Linked DNA regions of Homo sapiens: regions 1 and 3 are each linked to region 2. Evidence: fine-mapped expression QTL. A gene starts in region 2. Each other region holds a variant in brackets. All regions are shown on one strand. Distances are between the middles of the regions.

Region 1 (5,224 bases), 63 kb before region 2:
CAAGGGATGGGGGGAAGAATGAGGTGGACTTCATCCAGCTGAGTGACCTCTGGCAAGTGACTTCTACCTTCTGGGGCTGTTTCCTTGTCTATGAAAGAGGAATTGGCCCAGGTCTGTGATATTTCCCAAACCACGCATCACTCTCATCATTGGGTTGTGGAATCCGTCGAATAGGTCATGACCAGCTTTTAAAACATACCGACTATAATATTTTGGAGTGCACTTCCATGGTTAAGATGACCATTGCTTTGGGAACCTTTTGTTTCAGTTACAGTTATTTATCATAACAGGTTTGCTGGGTGCAGGCAGTAGTCTAAGTATTTCACATCCATTCATTCATTTAATCCTCACAATGACCCTATGGGGTAGACAGACTATTGTCCTCTCCATTTTTCAGCTAAGATAACCAAGGCGCTGAGAGACTAACTTTTCTGAGGTTATGCAGCCAGCCAATGGCAGGGGCAGGACTTGAACTTGGCAATCTGTCTCCAGAGTCCAAGCACTTACCCATACACTGTACCCCGTATACACCACTGTGTGTGAGTGCTTATAAGTGAAGCGGGTTGTGAAGGAAAATTATTTTAAATTGTGTATCATGGGCAGAAGTGTGTGAAAGCCACTGGCTTACAAGCTCCTGGATCCCCTACAGCGCTGAGCCCCTGATTCCAGGGCACATAAATGAAGCCAGCTTGTATCGGGGGGAGGTTTTCTGCACCTGTGAGAGGACGGGTGACACACGTTTAGCAGGCTGCAGGGAACTTTGGCCTCATCCCCAGGTAATGGGGAGTTAAGTGTCTTCCTATGAAGATGTGTTCGCTGGGGCTGCCTTCAATTCAAAAGTGAGGAGGCTAATTTGGGCCCAATTCCCAGCCCGTGTGCCTCAACAGGGCTCCTCTGCGCTGCTGTAGCCAGCATACAGGCAGCATTTTTCTCCCTGGGAGCCAAAAGCACTTCTCCGACATGCCCTTATTAATCCCTCATGCCATCCTGCCGGCTGAGCCCGTGACAGGTACGGCACAGACAGGAAAATGGGGATACCTGGGGCTCTGGCGGAGGAGGGCAGGATAGCTCAGGCTGGTGGCTGCTCCTGCTGGCATCAGGCTCAGTCCCTGAGCCCCAGTGGCTCCCACAAACTCCTTTTGGCAGGCAGTGAGTGAGCTCTGGGTAAGATCTGGTGCCAGCTCTGCTGAGGGAGGAGGGCTGGCGACCCAAGGAAAGGAAGGTAGGGCCTGACTCAGAAGGGCAGGGCCCTCCCTCGGAAACCAGGAAGGCTGGGCACCCTCCGTGGGCCTCACCCTCATTTGGAATGATGAGAGGTGTTCCCCAAGGCCTGGGCCACCTGGCAGGAATGAGCAGGACAATGAGAAGGAGTCCTGCCCCCATCAGCTCCCTGCAACAGGGTCCCTCCTGAGCAAATAAATGCCTTTTACAGATGTGGCTCCGAAATGAAAATGAAGTCTCTTAGCCACTGACATCTGGAGGCCAGATTCAGACATAAACCGATTACTTTATTATCATGAGGGGTTTTTTTCTTCCCTAAATCAACAGCCACAGCCCTCTGGCCTGAAGAGCCAGGGTCTAATTGAATTTGGGTGGGTGGTGTGTGGTTATGATTTGTTTTTGAGAGACTCGGGTTGGAGAACTGAAATGATCCCTTAAAAAAGACAAAGTACATCCCTTGAGAAACTGTCCCAAGTCCAGAGGCTGCAGTACCCGTGGTCTGAGGCAGGAGAACATGGCAGGGGTCTGCAGCATTTCCAGCTCCTGGGATGGCTGCCCCCTCCACAGCCCTCCCAGGGCCTCGTGGGATGCCAGGGTCAGAGGACCATGTGGGTGAGATGCAAAGAGGAGGAAATGTCATCTTACCTGTCCAGTCACAGCCCAGCACCTCCAGCCGCATCCCAATCCCCGCCGGCGACCACCTCTCCGGGTATACCCGCACATACTGTGCCGGAATGGGGTCAAACCTTCGGATGTCAGGGGTGTCATAGTGCATGTTCCCTTCGAACAGCTGCAGGGAGAGAGGCCACTCAGCCCTTCTGGTGTGGGACCCAGTCCCTATCACCTTCTTCCCTTTCCTTCCCCTTCTCCTCCCTGCCCCGCACGTCCTGCTAGGAAGGCAGCTTCCTAGTTGATTCCTGGTCACTGGGACATTCTGATCCACGCGAGCTTCATTTTCAGACCAAGGATTTTATTCATTTGGAAGGTGGTTATGGACCCAGAATTATGGAAAATAGGAAGTAAACAAAGGTGGCAATTTCCAGGTTGTGTCTTTTACCTGGTGACTAAAATGGAGTATCTGGGGAAGAATTTGGCTCCAACTGCGTTTTCAGCTGACTTTGGCTAGAGAGGGGGGAAGGCAGTTTGGGCGATCTTTGACCGTTCTGAATTCCTGGTCTACAGGGAAAGGAACACTTCTTTTTCTAATG[T/C]GTGAAAGCCTCCATTGAGGTAACCCAAGCTGACTGATAGTTCCTAGCTCACTGAGAACCTTACGGGAAAATGACCCCTAGGCCAATGACACTGTCTTCTGGTCACACATCGATAGTCTTAGACTGTTTCCCAAACCTTTGTTTAGGGAAAGCACTCCTGTCAAAAGAAACCTCACATGGAGCCCCAGTACATAAAACTGATGATGCGGGGAGCAGGGGGCTGCTTTGGAGGACCAGCCTAGAGTACACTTGGAGACACTCATCCGGGGGAAGGACAGGAGTGGGTGGCCAGGGCCTGCAGCTGATTAGCCCCCAGAAATTCAGCAGGACCGCTCCAGTTTTCAGGATGCCCTGCGTCCACAATTCTGAACCAGAAGCACTGTCTCGGATAGGGCTGTCTCCCACAATGGCAAAGATCAACTTCTTTCCCAAGAAAAACCAGGCTCAGCTCTCCATGGGGAAGCCTGCGGTCCAACTTCTGCTCCATCGATGCAAGGTTCCAGTTACCAAGCCCTGAGCCTTTCTAAGCCTCTGGAGTTGAGAGCTGGGAGTTTACCTCAGCATCGCAAAACCTCCAACCCAACTCTTGCCTCTGTATTCAGAATGGAGACATTTGCTTAGCAAAGGTGGCCCCGAGACATGCAAACTCCCTCCTTTTTTAGGGACCTGTTCTTTTGAGAAAAACAAGGGGTAACTAGAGATAAGAATCAGAGAGCCTGGCCTGCCAGGAGACTGATCTGGGGAGGGACAGAGGTATGACGTCTCCTCCCCTTCTGGGGCTCCTTGTGTCTGTGTTGAAGGCTGACCTTCACTCTGGTGGCAGGGGAGTAAGCTGTACTGGCCTGAGCTTCTGGCTCGGGGTGAGTTTCTCTTGCTTCTCCCTTGCCTCAGTCTGAGAGGCCGGAAAGATCTAAGCAGTCAAAACTAGGAGAATACAAAGGAATGCAGCGACATTCAGAAAAACATCGTTATTTTTGGAAGTCATCCTCTAGTTTCTATAGCTTGGCCTCCAAAAACCACATCCCCTTTAGATGTCTGGCCAATTTCAAGGAAACTTTATCTGAAAGAGTGTATAAAGAGTGTTGAACTTTATAAAAAGGCAGTGTTCAGTAGGGGTTAGGCATCTGGACTTTGGAGTCAGACTTCCGGTTTCTGAATCGGCTCTATCACAGGTGAACTGTGTGACCCTGGGCATGATATCAAGTGTCAGTTTATCATCTCTAAAATGGGAGTGACAAAAAGATCTACTTTGCACAGATGTTGTAACGATTAAAAAAGAGTCCAGGCCGGGCGCGGTGGTTCATGCCTATAATCCCAGCACTTTGAGAGGCCAAGGCAAGTGGATCACTTGAGGTCAGGAGTTCGAGACCAGCCTGACCAATACGGTGAAACCCCATCTCTACCAGAAATACAAAAATTAGCTAGGTGTGGTGGCGGGCACCTGTAATCCCAGCCACTCAGGAGGCTGAGGCTGGAGAATCGCTTGAACCCTGGAGGCGGAGGTTGCAGTGAGCCGAGAACAGGCCACTGCACTCCAGCCTGGGTGACAGAGACTCCATCTCAAAAACAAACAAACAAACAAACAAAAGAGTCAGAAATAAGGTATTTAGCACAGTGCCTGGCACAAAGTAATCTCTCAAACGATATTTGTTTTATTGGATTTCAGGAGTTGGATGACGACTGTTTAGATGGGACATCATCAGTCTCAACTCCCTGTACCACACTTAGCCTCCCTGTTGAGGGTAACGTTACAGAGGCCTCCAAGAACAGCCTACCTTTGGCTGCTGGGTCCTGGGGTCCTGAATGTATTCCCAGTCCTTGCCGTTTAGGCTGTAGGAGACTTTGAACTTGCGCACAAATGCTCTGGCTTCCACAGCAGTGATACTGTCTCCTCCGCGGGCTCCCTGGATGATGACACCTTTCACTGTCTTGGGTGTTCCCAGATCTACCTGAAGCCACTCCTCACCGGGCTGGGCCTGAGGGATTCGAGGGAACCAGCCCGAGCGGCTGCTAACCAGGCGGGCTGCACTGGGGCTCCAGAGGTATTCCTGGGTGGAAGAGGCGGAGATCTGGGAGTCTGCAATGAGGCCTGAGAGCATCCCCAGCATGTTGGAGCAGGGAGCATCTGCAGAGAGGAGAGGAAGATACAAGAGGTCATGGCTGACACCTGCTAACCAGGGACCACCCGCTATAAGAAGGGAGCTGCAAAAGAGCCCAACTGTCAAATACTAAGTCAGCACTAATTTCTTTGCATGGTGAATGTGTACAGCACTGTGGTTAAGAGCCTGGACTCAGAGCTAGACTGCCTGTGTTCATGTTCACTCTGCCACTTACTAGTCAGAGGGCCTTGGGCAAATTATTTAATTGCTCTTTGCCTCAGTTTCCTTAGATCTAAAGGGGAGCTAATAGAGGTGCCTACCTCTTGAGGGCTGTTGCAAGGATTCTGTTAGTTACTAAGAGCTCACAGGATGGTGCCTGGCATATTTAAGTATCCAATGGCCATTAACTATTTGTGCTTACAGCTCTAACCAAGGACTCTCAGAATGTGTGTCTGCACATCCCTGTCGATGACACTAGTCCCCACTGACCCTATCAGGGACACTGAGAACAGGGGAACTGAGCTAAACATTGAATTATTTCCTAGTAATTGTTTTGCCAAGTAGAAGGAAACCTTCCTGGCATCAGTATCAGGTCTTTACTTCCCAAATAACTGCTCTTTACTGCCTTGGATCCTTCCCACATGCTGTTCCCATTACCCCAAATGCTTTTCCCTTCAGTCACCCCCAGACTAACAT
Region 2 (5,224 bases):
GCCTCTGGGCTTCTCTGGAAGTGACGCAGCACTGCTGGGGATTGGGATGGGAGGGGGTTCTGCAGAGAGCGCGGCAGGCAGGTGGCAGAGCGGGAGTGGGTCCAAGCGGGTGTCGCGCACACACGTACACACACTCCAAGCAGCGCTCGGGGACAGATGTGCGAACATCTGGGGTAGGAGATGGCCCCTGAGTCTTCACGACCCCTCCCGCTCCGCACAGCACACGGAACCTGAAGTTGCATGTGTGTGCGCGCCAGTGTGAGTGCCAGTGTGTGCGCGCTCGCGCGCTGGGGCCTACTGGAGTCCGTGTCTGAATACATAATATACTGTGGGCATCCTCACGGCGCGCGCGCGTGTGCACACACACACAGCGAATCACACAAACATACATAATTTACGCAGCATCCAGGTCTGTGAGTGGTAATTTAATTCCGCTTCAAGCTGGGAATTTAGAAATAAGGCAAGGGGGAACGGCGGAGGCCCAGAAAATCTCCCCAAGTGGGACCCCCACCCATCCCTTTGGCAGGATTTGCAGCTGCCCTGAAGACCACTTATGGCAAAGAAAGAGCTGCAAACGTGCGGATCTGGGTGGCAAAGGCATTCCTGAATTTTCTTCCCCCCTCAAATAAATGCCCAAGCTTAAAGTGGTGTGTGTGCTGGTGGGGGGCGTGAGGAGAAGGAAGGGTGACAGTACCAGATGCAAGGCTAGGATCCACTAGCTGATGTTCTGGGGATGCCAAGGAGGCTGCAGAGTTAGCTCTACCACTGCCGCCATCGCCTTGCAAGTGCCTTGGGTGAGGGCACTTCAGGAAGGCTTTTTCGCCTTTCTTTCACCCATTTCCTCCATAGATGGTTTCTCCATCTCCAATCACCTGTAGCAGCTGCTAAGAGTTTTGTTGTTAGATTCCAGACACTGTTCTCAGAGGGGTAGGGAGGCTCACTCTAGAGAGTGGTCCGAGAAGGAAGCACAAACCCCACTGCATTCCCCATGGATTCCCCTTTCCAGAGCATACCCCTTGCCGCTCCCCACAAATGCGGTCCCCAGACTGTTCTGGGCCTCGAAATGCTTATCTCCACAGCAGCCTGTCCACACACCCTTTTTGGCAGTGGTTGAGAACAAATTCCACTCAAAAGTTTCTAACCACTTCACAAGAGTGAGAGACCTTCGAGGGCCTGCAATTTGTTTTAGCTAATAATAATTTCTAAAAGAACGTACGATTTACTTTCCCAGACAACACATGGATGAAGAGAGAAGAGACCAACCGTCTTGGTTGCCAGCAGCACCCAACCCCAAGCCCCTATCTCAGCCACAAGCCAACTTGCTCCACCAGCCTGAGCCTTATGATTCTGAAGCATAACCAGTCATTCTCCAAAGAATCTACAGCATCTGAAAACCAAAACTAAACTCTTGTCTTTCCCAAGCCCTTCAGTTAACATTGCTCAATGTAGCTAAGTGGAGGGAATGCAAATGATTTATATTTCACTGGCTAGTTGGAGAAACTCAAGGGAGATGTGTTCTGCTTCAAGACAGGGAAAAAAAATTCCCAAAAACTGTAATGCAAAGGCTTTGTAGTATTTTTAAACCTTTGATTCAGTCCATATGTGACATATGAACACCGCCAAATTCTGTTTCAAAACACACTCACACACACACACACACACACACACACACACTCCTAGCAGGAGAGGAAAGTTGGGTTTTAGCAGCCGTGGTGGTGTAGGAAGGGCCGGCTGGGATCTCTCTTTAAATTATTGAGTACTGAGGGAGCCTTCTTCTGTGCCGTTCTGCGTGGCCTTCCTGCTTTAGCGGTCACTTTTAAAGGGGAAACCATGTTGCAATAAATAGAAAAACTTTCAGTGGCTTACCTGGTTGGCCTCTCACTTGGTGTCTTGAAAAGTAGAGGGCTAAGAAAACCCAGGTGAGAGGAAACATATCCATTTTGGAGAAGGTGGCTCTTTCCAGAGCTGGGTTCGTAGGTTTCTTGTTTAAATCTTTGTGTTTTTCTCTCTTTTATTTTCCTCCTTACAACGTCTTATGCAGAGGTTTCTAATGGTCAGCGTTTCCCTCCTGAGTCCTGGTGGCTTGTCTTCACCTCTATTCTTGCTGGAATTTCCACCTCACCAGGAGGAGAGTAGCTCCTGAAATCAGCAAAGAGGGAACAAGCCGGGAAGAGAACACGGTTTTCCTCTTAAAAACAAAACGCATATATGTTCTCTCCAGTTCCTCAAAGTGTCATTTCCTTTATCCTACAAATATCACGAGTATTTCCCGAAAGCCAAGCGTAACAATAATGATAATAATAATAATTAAAACCAAGACTTGCCTTGGGCATCACACGGCCCCCAGGCAGCTGTGTGATCTCAGAGGCGTAAACTGACACACATCCCGCGGCACCCTTGACGGACACACGGGCGGAGGCAGCCGCCGCCGGACAGCCCGAGTGGAAGGCGGCCGCCCTGCTCTTGTCCTCGCCGGGTTCCCCCGGCGGGAGCCTCCCCCAACGGCTACACCCGCTTGGCCAGCCTCTCGAGGGGAGTCTGAGGAAGGAAGCTGCTGCTGCTGTTGCTGCTGCTGGTGCGGCGGCGGTGGCGGCTGGGATCGCCTGGGAGTGAGCGAGCCCCTCTCCGAGTTCGCTGGCGCCCGCCCTCACCTCCACCTCGCCGAGTGTCTGTGCGGCTGAGGATGTGCTGGGGGCCGGCTGCAGGCTGGTGCCTCGCTCGCGATCTCTGCCTCCCCTCCGGCTCCCCACTGCCTTTTCAGGCCGAGCAGCATGTGGATGTCAGAGCCGCGGCAGAGCTATCCGATTACGCGCCGGCTCAGGGCCCGCCCCTTCTGTGTTCCTGATTAAAGAGGCAGCCGCGGAGACGCGCGGCGCAGAGCAGAGTGCCGCGGCACCCAGCTCGGGCGGGGCGGCGACGGCTTCTCTCGGGCCGCCGCAGGATCGAAGTTAAGGCGGCGCCCATCCCACCACCCCTCGCCCGCCCCGCATCTCCCGATCGCCCCCGCGCACCTCCGCGCCGGGCCGCCGGTGCGTAACGCCCTGGGGAAGAAGCGCCCCCGGGCACCCCCAGGGCGCGCCGCCTTGGCCGTGTCGCCCCCACCCAAGGGAGACCCCGGGGGGACGGGGGGAAAAGCCTTGTTCCCCCTAAATTCCACGACTCCGATGCCACACACGCAGAACCCAACACAATGCCACGCGCGATGGCGTTACAAGAGGAGTTGGGTGGCGTACGGTGTTTGGGGTAGCGAGCCGGTCGGCAGCTCAGCCATGCGTTCGAACAGGCAGCGGTGCGTGGCGGCGACACACACCGTCAGCCCGGTCTGAATAAAACCCCAAACACTCGCTGCGTTTACTACTCAGATCCTTTGTTATGTCCCAAACATGCTCTGCTCCTCTCTGGGTTAGGATTTCGTTACCCCTGCGCCTTTAACTGTAACTACCCTAAAAAGAGGAAAGACTTTCTTCAGCAAATAATTTCTTCAGGTAATTAAATTGGATTCCATCAAGTTCCCCCGAAAAAGTATAGGTGCTTGAAGGCGTCTCATCCAAATGCTACTGTAACTACGTCTATTCACATTTTCCCCCATGGAAACGTGGTCACAAAGCCTAGAGAAAGAAAACATCATTATGCCAACTATTTTTAAATGGAGGCGTGAAAACTGTTTAGAGGGAACTGCAAGCTAACAGTTGGGGAAACACTTGTATCTTTGTTTCTGAGGATGGCTTTGTGGATTCCAAACTGTCTTGCTTCACCAGACACCTATTACTACATTATCATAAAGACTGCAACAGAAACAGCCTAAATTACACCCTGCACATGTACACCTTTTCTGCCACAAAAGAGGTATATGAAAAATAAGAAAATTCAGAAAAATATTTACAGATTAAGATTTTTTTTAAATTAAGAAAGTAAAATTTTCTGTAGATTAAGAAAAATACAGTTTCGGTGACGAGAAACACACACCTGACTACCCATTTTCTTCTTGGCTTGTACTTGTGGATTCTTCTGGGTGGTTTCCCTCCTTATCTGGACTTGCCCATTAGCTTTATCACTTTTAGTGTTTGAAAAATCTGTAACTCCCACTTAACTGTTATTTACACTGAGATAACCAAAACAAAATTGAATCAGAAGTGATTTGCAAATAGTTGAGCCAAGCTGTGTTGGGGGGTGGCGCGGGATTTTAGAGTGGAAATCCACAGGCTGAGTATCACACTGTTAATCTCAGATGCCTGGTTGGGAAAGGCACAGCACAGAGGCCTCTGAGTTCTTCCAGGGAGCATGTCTCTTGGCTAGCCTAAATGCTACCTTTCATTCCCTCTTTGCCTCCCTCCTTCCTCTTCCTCCCTCCTTTCCTTCCTTCTTCCTTCCTTTCTAGGCTTGAGAGCACATCCACATTATTAAAAACTCCAGATTTACATTTCTCCTCTTTAAAGCTCAATTGTAAAGAATGACTCCAAGCCTTAAATATTTAACAAAGTAAAAGAGCAGTTTGGATTATTAACCTTAAGCAGAGATCCCGGTTTATGTCATTGCCAAGATGCTAATCTAAGGACAAAGAACGCTATCTGTAGTGACAGTCCCTGAATAGAGAGGGCCATTTAATATCACCTCTCCCCACCACTCACCAGGCATGCCAAACCATTTTTGCCAGTGCCCAATGTGGGAGACTCCTGTTTGTGAGAATAATGTAGCCAGGGTTTAGGTGAAGGGCACTGTGAAAGGGGGAAAGAAGAGAGAAAAGGTAAACCTAAGCCCACTGGAGAACCATAAGAATGACAACCCTGGACTTCTGGTCTTGGGGTCTCAGGGATGAAGGTCCCCATCAGGCTGCTTCCAGAGTAGAGAAAAGTAAGAATCAGTTTTGTTCCTGGCCTGGTTGCCTACACTGTAACTTTTCATTTTTCAGCGGTGTCCTACAGGGGACGCTCACTTACTTCCTGGGAGTCCTCTGTACCAGGGCTGCAAGACTTCCCACTCCCCTTGAGTGAAGGCCTCATTTCCTGCAGTTGGACAGAGAGTGAGTCTCAGGTTTCCATCCCTGGGGACTCAAGCGGCCAGACCATTTTTCAATCCTCTAGGGGGCAGCACTCAATAAATAATGGTAACACCACCCAGGGTCACACTTCTGGTGGTGCTTTTAATTCCAAGGAGTTCAAAGTGCTTTATCAGACCAGGGAAGATTCAGAGTGAGGCCGATCTCTCCCCAGCCTACTCTGAACAA
Region 3 (5,224 bases), 76 kb before region 2:
TGAATGGATTGTATCTGGGTCTGTTCTACTTACCCTTCCTGTTACTGAAACTCCAGGCACAGCCAGGCCAAAGGTTTCACAGTCTGCCCCTTCCAGTGACCCACCCCACCAGGTAGCCCCTTCCCCTCTTCTCTCCTTTCTCCTTCTCTCCCATCTCCCTCTCACGATAAAATGACAATCTCTATGCATGATTTAGGGGAACATTGCAAGACCAGGGAGTTAATGCTAGTGACATGCTTAGCACAAGCAGCTGAAGGATCATAATTCAGTGCTGACATCTGAGCTAATCCACTAGTCTGCAGAATCTCCAGACGAGCAGGCCTCTGGATTTCACTTCGTTAAATCATTTGTGCCCCACTTGTCTGTTAAGTGCTATGAGCTCCAGGGAAGAAAGATGATATGTAAATTTAAGGAATTAGCAGTAGACATCAGTCAGAGAGATGCTGAGCTGCAAAGCGCCTGTCACTGACAGAGGCCTGATTAGAACCAGGGACATCATGAAGGAATGACTCAGACCAGGAAAAGCCCAAGGAAGGGAGAAGAAGAGCAGGGGGAAAGGAATGAACACATTGAACACCTGCTGCCTGTGCGCGATCACACGGGAGGCTTTACCTGCCTCCCCTGATGTCACCTTCCCTGTGAAATCTAGCTCTGCAAAATAAATACCATCTTCTCCATTTTCACCAAAAAGAAACTGAGGCTCAGAGAATTGGAGTGACGTAGGATTTGAATCCTCATTGGACTCAGTAAACCTGCCACAGCATAGCTTCTCATCTGGATTGGACTCCCAGCCTAACTCACTAAGCTTTTAAAGCCTCAGTCTTTCCATCTGTAAAATGGATACAAAGACAGTCTTACTGCATAGAGTTGGGGGAAGAGTAAATGGAATGAGCCATGTAAAGTGCTTTGCACAGTAACAAGGACACATTAAGAGCTCAGGAAAAGTTGTTACTATTAATATCACTCTACACACTCCCTCCTATGCTTGCCTTTATTTTACTAGGAAACAAAAAGGATAGAAAGACCACCAATAACCCAGGAAGGCCAATCCAAGACTCAAAAAGAAGTATGTTTGGCATGAGGGCAGTAAAGATGTTCTCTGGACAAAGACTGGTTCCCCTTATCTGCTCTTTCTCCAGAAACCAGCCGGCCCCAAGTTTTCCATCACCACAGGTCTTTTGTGTTGCTTCACAGTAGATGAAATAAAATATTACATGATCCTGGAACAAGAGTGGGACCTCAAGTGATCTTAGGGCAGGCCAGTCCTGCCTCCCGGAGGAACCGTGCCAAAAGCATCCAAGAACAGCTGTCCACCCTTTGCTTTAAATTCTCCAGAGAAGGAGTTTCCATAGGCCACGTCTGTAGTGTGTTTTCTAGGTTACAACCCTAACCATCAGAAACTTCTTAAATTCAGTTTAAAGTTTTCCTGCTGTCATTTAGAGACATTTCCTCCTTCTACCCCTGATGGAGCATAGCCAATTTCTGTTTTCCAACTTAGAGACATTTTCACTTGTGAAGAATTAAGACTCGTAGTCTTTGCTTCCCTAGGAACCCTTGCCCCTTCAAATGTCTACTTCCTAGGGCATGGTTCAAATGTCTACTTTCTAGGGCAGTGTTGGTTTTCCACTGACCCTTCTTCCAAGCTATTATAAATGCTTCAGCTCTTTTAAGTCATGGCACCCACACATAGATATTGAGATCAAACACGTGCTGCAACTGAAGTTTGTTCTTCTGGAATCTCCCGATTTATGGCCCACCACTGTCAGACACAGAAGATGTTCTAGGTATACAGTGGCTACTGATTACTTGGACCGTCAAAAGAGCTGGTATGGTGGGGGCGGGGGGCTACTTTTTTATTTACTTGAACCTTGAGGTAAAGCCCTTTGGATTGTCAAGAGGTCGCCTGAACGTGACAACTGACCAGCTAAGAACCAGCCCTGCCTGTTCTTGTAGCTGATGGCTATGATGCCGGCAATGGACAGCTTCCAAGAAAAAGACAATGGAAAGGAAATATGTTCCATTGCTGAAAGAGATTGAAGAAATAATGTCCCAGAGATACAATTCCTCTCCTCCTGGACCTGACATACTTGGGAGGCATTTCGCTGGGTCCTTGACCCAAAACATCTGTTGTTGCCAATGATACAGGGAAAACAATCGCCTGGGAATGAACAACAGGAGTTCAAAAGGGTGAAGAGGAAGTACAGAGGACAGGGCCATTCAGCATTTTAACCTGCTGCTGTCTCTGGAAAGGTCTCTTGATATTTCACCTGGCGATTTACGGCCGCATCTGGCTTCAGCTGCTTAAGTGTCATGTGAACACGTGACTGCGACTGGCCCAACAGCAATGGAATCAGTTGTGTCTACACCTCACCAAACCCTGAAATAAATCACCAGCTTGATCCTCCTGGCTATCACAAAGCCAAACACACCATCTGTCCAACACGCACATCTCCTGGCTAGCATCTTGCCCTCCTACTAGAACGACCATCTGAAAGAATATTTAGTGCTGTAGGAGATGTAGTCTCTTTGCATAGTCCA[T/C]GCTTAAAACATGAGTCAGCCCTCAGCTGGCCTTCCAAGGTCTGCCTATCTCTGCTAAGGTCCTCAAATTAGCAACCAGTTAAGGGAAACACTGACTTTGGATAAACTTAGCAAGATGTTCTCAAGGTTTACAATAGACCATTTTGTGGACATGAAGGTTTCAGTCCTAGCCCTTGCAGGAATCTACCCAGAGCTGTTTTTTCACTCTGCCGGCTTTCATGAAGGTTTTGCCATTGAGGCTGTCTTGTCATTCTGCCCCTTCGTTATCAATCCACACACTGCTGGGGGACTCAACCAATCATGATTTGCAGGAAAAAAAAAAAAAGGGTAAAGAAAGCTTCTTCCTGCTGTTATTTTTTTCTGCAAAGCCTGGGATGTTTTTCTACCTTCCTTAAAGAAGGGCCTCTATCCTTTTCTTTTCCAGTTGAAATTATTCCTTGACTATTGGCTTTCTTTTAGCCAAGCTGCTCCTGATCTTTAATTATCTATCATGGTCCAGAGCCCAGGAAGTTCTGTCTCTGGATTTGCAGTGTCTGTGCCCCAGCCAAGCCACAGCAACCTCTTTCTGAAGACAGTTCAATCTAACAGCAATTCAATGGATTGTTTGCTGCCATCGGTCCCACCTGATCTTTTGAACTCAGAGTTGCTTTTCAATTCAGTCACCACTTGCTCACTGTCTAAAATCAAGCCCATTATGAGTAAATTCACTCATCAGTTATTTCCTCTGATTTCTCTGCAACCATCCACTCACCATACCCATCCACACTTCACTTAATCTTCTTGTGTGCGCCTCCACCGTGAATCATGGCTAAGGTCTCCCACTCTAACGGAATTCATTCAATGGCTCAGTCTGCATCAAAATAGCCCCAGTGAGGTGTTAACAATCTTACTTCTTACATTTGAAGGAATAGCCAGCCACTGTTTGTAAAATTTGGGTATTTTATAACATTAAGATTCTCGACTTACTCCCATTTGAGCTTGTTTTTGAGCCTAGAGTAAAGGTTCTGTTCCCTCAATCCCATAGGCTTTGACCAGGCAGTCAAAGCTCTGTTCAATATCAGCTTCGCTTGTTTTCTTTCTATCACTTTCATGATTGAAAGTCATTGAAGTAATACTGTAATCAGATTTCACAAGGCCAACCCACGAATAAAAGAGCACAGATTTAGGGGGAACACACACTGGAGGATTCTGAAGCTGACCTGGCCTAGTACCCTTTACCTCATCTTCTTTGTCTCATTCCTGACAATAAAAATGACACAACAATCACAATGATGATGATTATTGACCTTACTTAGTATTAATATTTACTTACAATGCTCTTTTTGATTAATCGCAATAGTTCCTACACCATCTAATGCCATGTTACTTGCTTACTTTACTGTAGTTATCTAGTGAGGGAGAATGAGACAGCTATAAAGATACCAGCCACTGAACACTCCATCAAGGGATCCCACAGAAGACACATCCCTCCATTACTTGCTTCTTGGTTCATACCAAAACCAGGGAACTAAAGAATCATCAAGGGCCCCTGGTGGTTGCTCTCATGTGAGTGTCCAAAGCACTGGAGCAGTGTTGTCCAATACATTCTGTGATGATGCCGTGTATACAGTGACGTGCCCTGTCTATGCACTGACCAATACAGTGTAGCTACTGTGCCCTTGGAATGTGGCTGGTGGGACAGCAGAACCGAAGTTTTGGCTGTAATCATTTTAATTAATTAAAATAAAATTGCCACACATGGCTCATGGCTACAATATTCAATGCTGCAGCTTTAGATACCTGCCCGCCCTATGAGTTTTTGTCTCGGTTCTTAAAGGCTGGGCTTTGATCATTCTCAAAACTCTGTCTATGTTCAAAGCACCTGAGAATGTAGGAAACATGCCATCTCCTAGTAAGGGGGTGCTTCCTATGTCATTGTCACTACAGAGGAAAGCCAAAGTGGCCTCTTAGAGAACACTGAGTGTTCCTCCGCAGCTAGCAGGGGTCACTGAATTTGGAACAGGGTCCCCAGAGGCTGGTGTGAACACACTCCAGGCAGCTAAGCCACAAGCAAAGAGCTAAAAACAGAAATTCTGACTGGCTTGAAAGACTATCTTGAAAAACAAAAACAGTGGAATGAAACCAGTGGGTGCTTTTCAGCCTTAGGCAACCACTGGCCAAAAAGAACAGAACTAATTGCTTACTTAAAAGGAAAAGGAAAGGAAAAAAAAAGAAAGAAAATATGAGAAAATAATGAAATCAGAAAATATCCGAGGAATGTAAGCAGTTTCCACATAGGGCCCGTGTTGGGTACTTCAACACGGCTAGCTCCTCTCCCATCCACCTTTCTCTTCACCCTGACGCCCCTCACACTTGACAGAGACACCTCCTTTCTTAAATTTCATTACTTCTGTTTGCCTATCTCATCAGGGGATGAAGCATATGGCACACGCTCGTGAAGAGTGGGACGGTCCCCTCTGTGGATGGCAAAGTGTGGCACACAACAGGCTTTCAGGCTGACTCTGTGGGCGCCAGCCGCTCTGAACCCATTAGCAGTTGCTCTGCCCCCAACCAAGCCAGCTGCTTCCCTTCTCCCCAATCCCCTCAGGGCCTCCCCCTCCTTTTTTTTTTTTCCCTATGGAGAAGAAGTAAGGACCACCCTGAACAGAAAGGGCTTTCTCTCCTCTCCTGCTTAAAGCCCAATATC

Which allele goes with the higher level. Positions count from the first base shown, and alleles are read on the strand shown. Sizes are in standard deviations (SD) of each study's normalised expression.
As copies of T replace C in region 1, the expression in monocytes after LPS of the gene that starts at base 2,729 in region 2 goes up (moderate effect, 0.71 SD a copy in Fairfax 2014).
For the expression in aorta of the gene that starts at base 2,729 in region 2, allele T in region 3 goes with a higher level than allele C (large effect, 0.81 SD a copy in GTEx).

What was found. PIP is the estimated chance that this variant, and not a neighbour inherited with it, causes the effect.
Region 1: its variant is fine-mapped to the expression of NRP2 in monocytes after LPS (Fairfax 2014, PIP 0.95).
Region 3: its variant is fine-mapped to the expression of NRP2 in aorta (GTEx, PIP above 0.99). The same link has a PIP of 0.9 or more in tibial artery.

Annotation. Positions count from the first base shown.
Region 1 is chr2:205,742,533-205,747,756 of GRCh38, reverse strand. It overlaps NRP2 (neuropilin 2), which reads right to left. Exons shown (of 17, transcript NM_003872.3): 9 at 4,205-4,554; 10 at 1,867-2,011. Among named protein-coding and RNA genes, the nearest start is that of NRP2, 63 kb to the right of the region's middle. RefSeq lists an enhancer at 569-1,120. The variant T/C (reference allele first, on the strand shown) is at 2,430.
Region 2 is chr2:205,680,006-205,685,229 of GRCh38, reverse strand. NRP2 (neuropilin 2) reads right to left here and starts at 2,729. Exons shown (of 17, transcript NM_003872.3): 1 at 1,867-2,729. The coding sequence starts at 1,939. RefSeq lists an enhancer at 104-734 and a silencer at 3,209-3,328.
Region 3 is chr2:205,755,537-205,760,760 of GRCh38, reverse strand. All of the region lies in intron 12 of NRP2 (neuropilin 2), which reads right to left. Among named protein-coding and RNA genes, the nearest start is that of NRP2, 76 kb to the right of the region's middle. The variant T/C (reference allele first, on the strand shown) is at 2,539.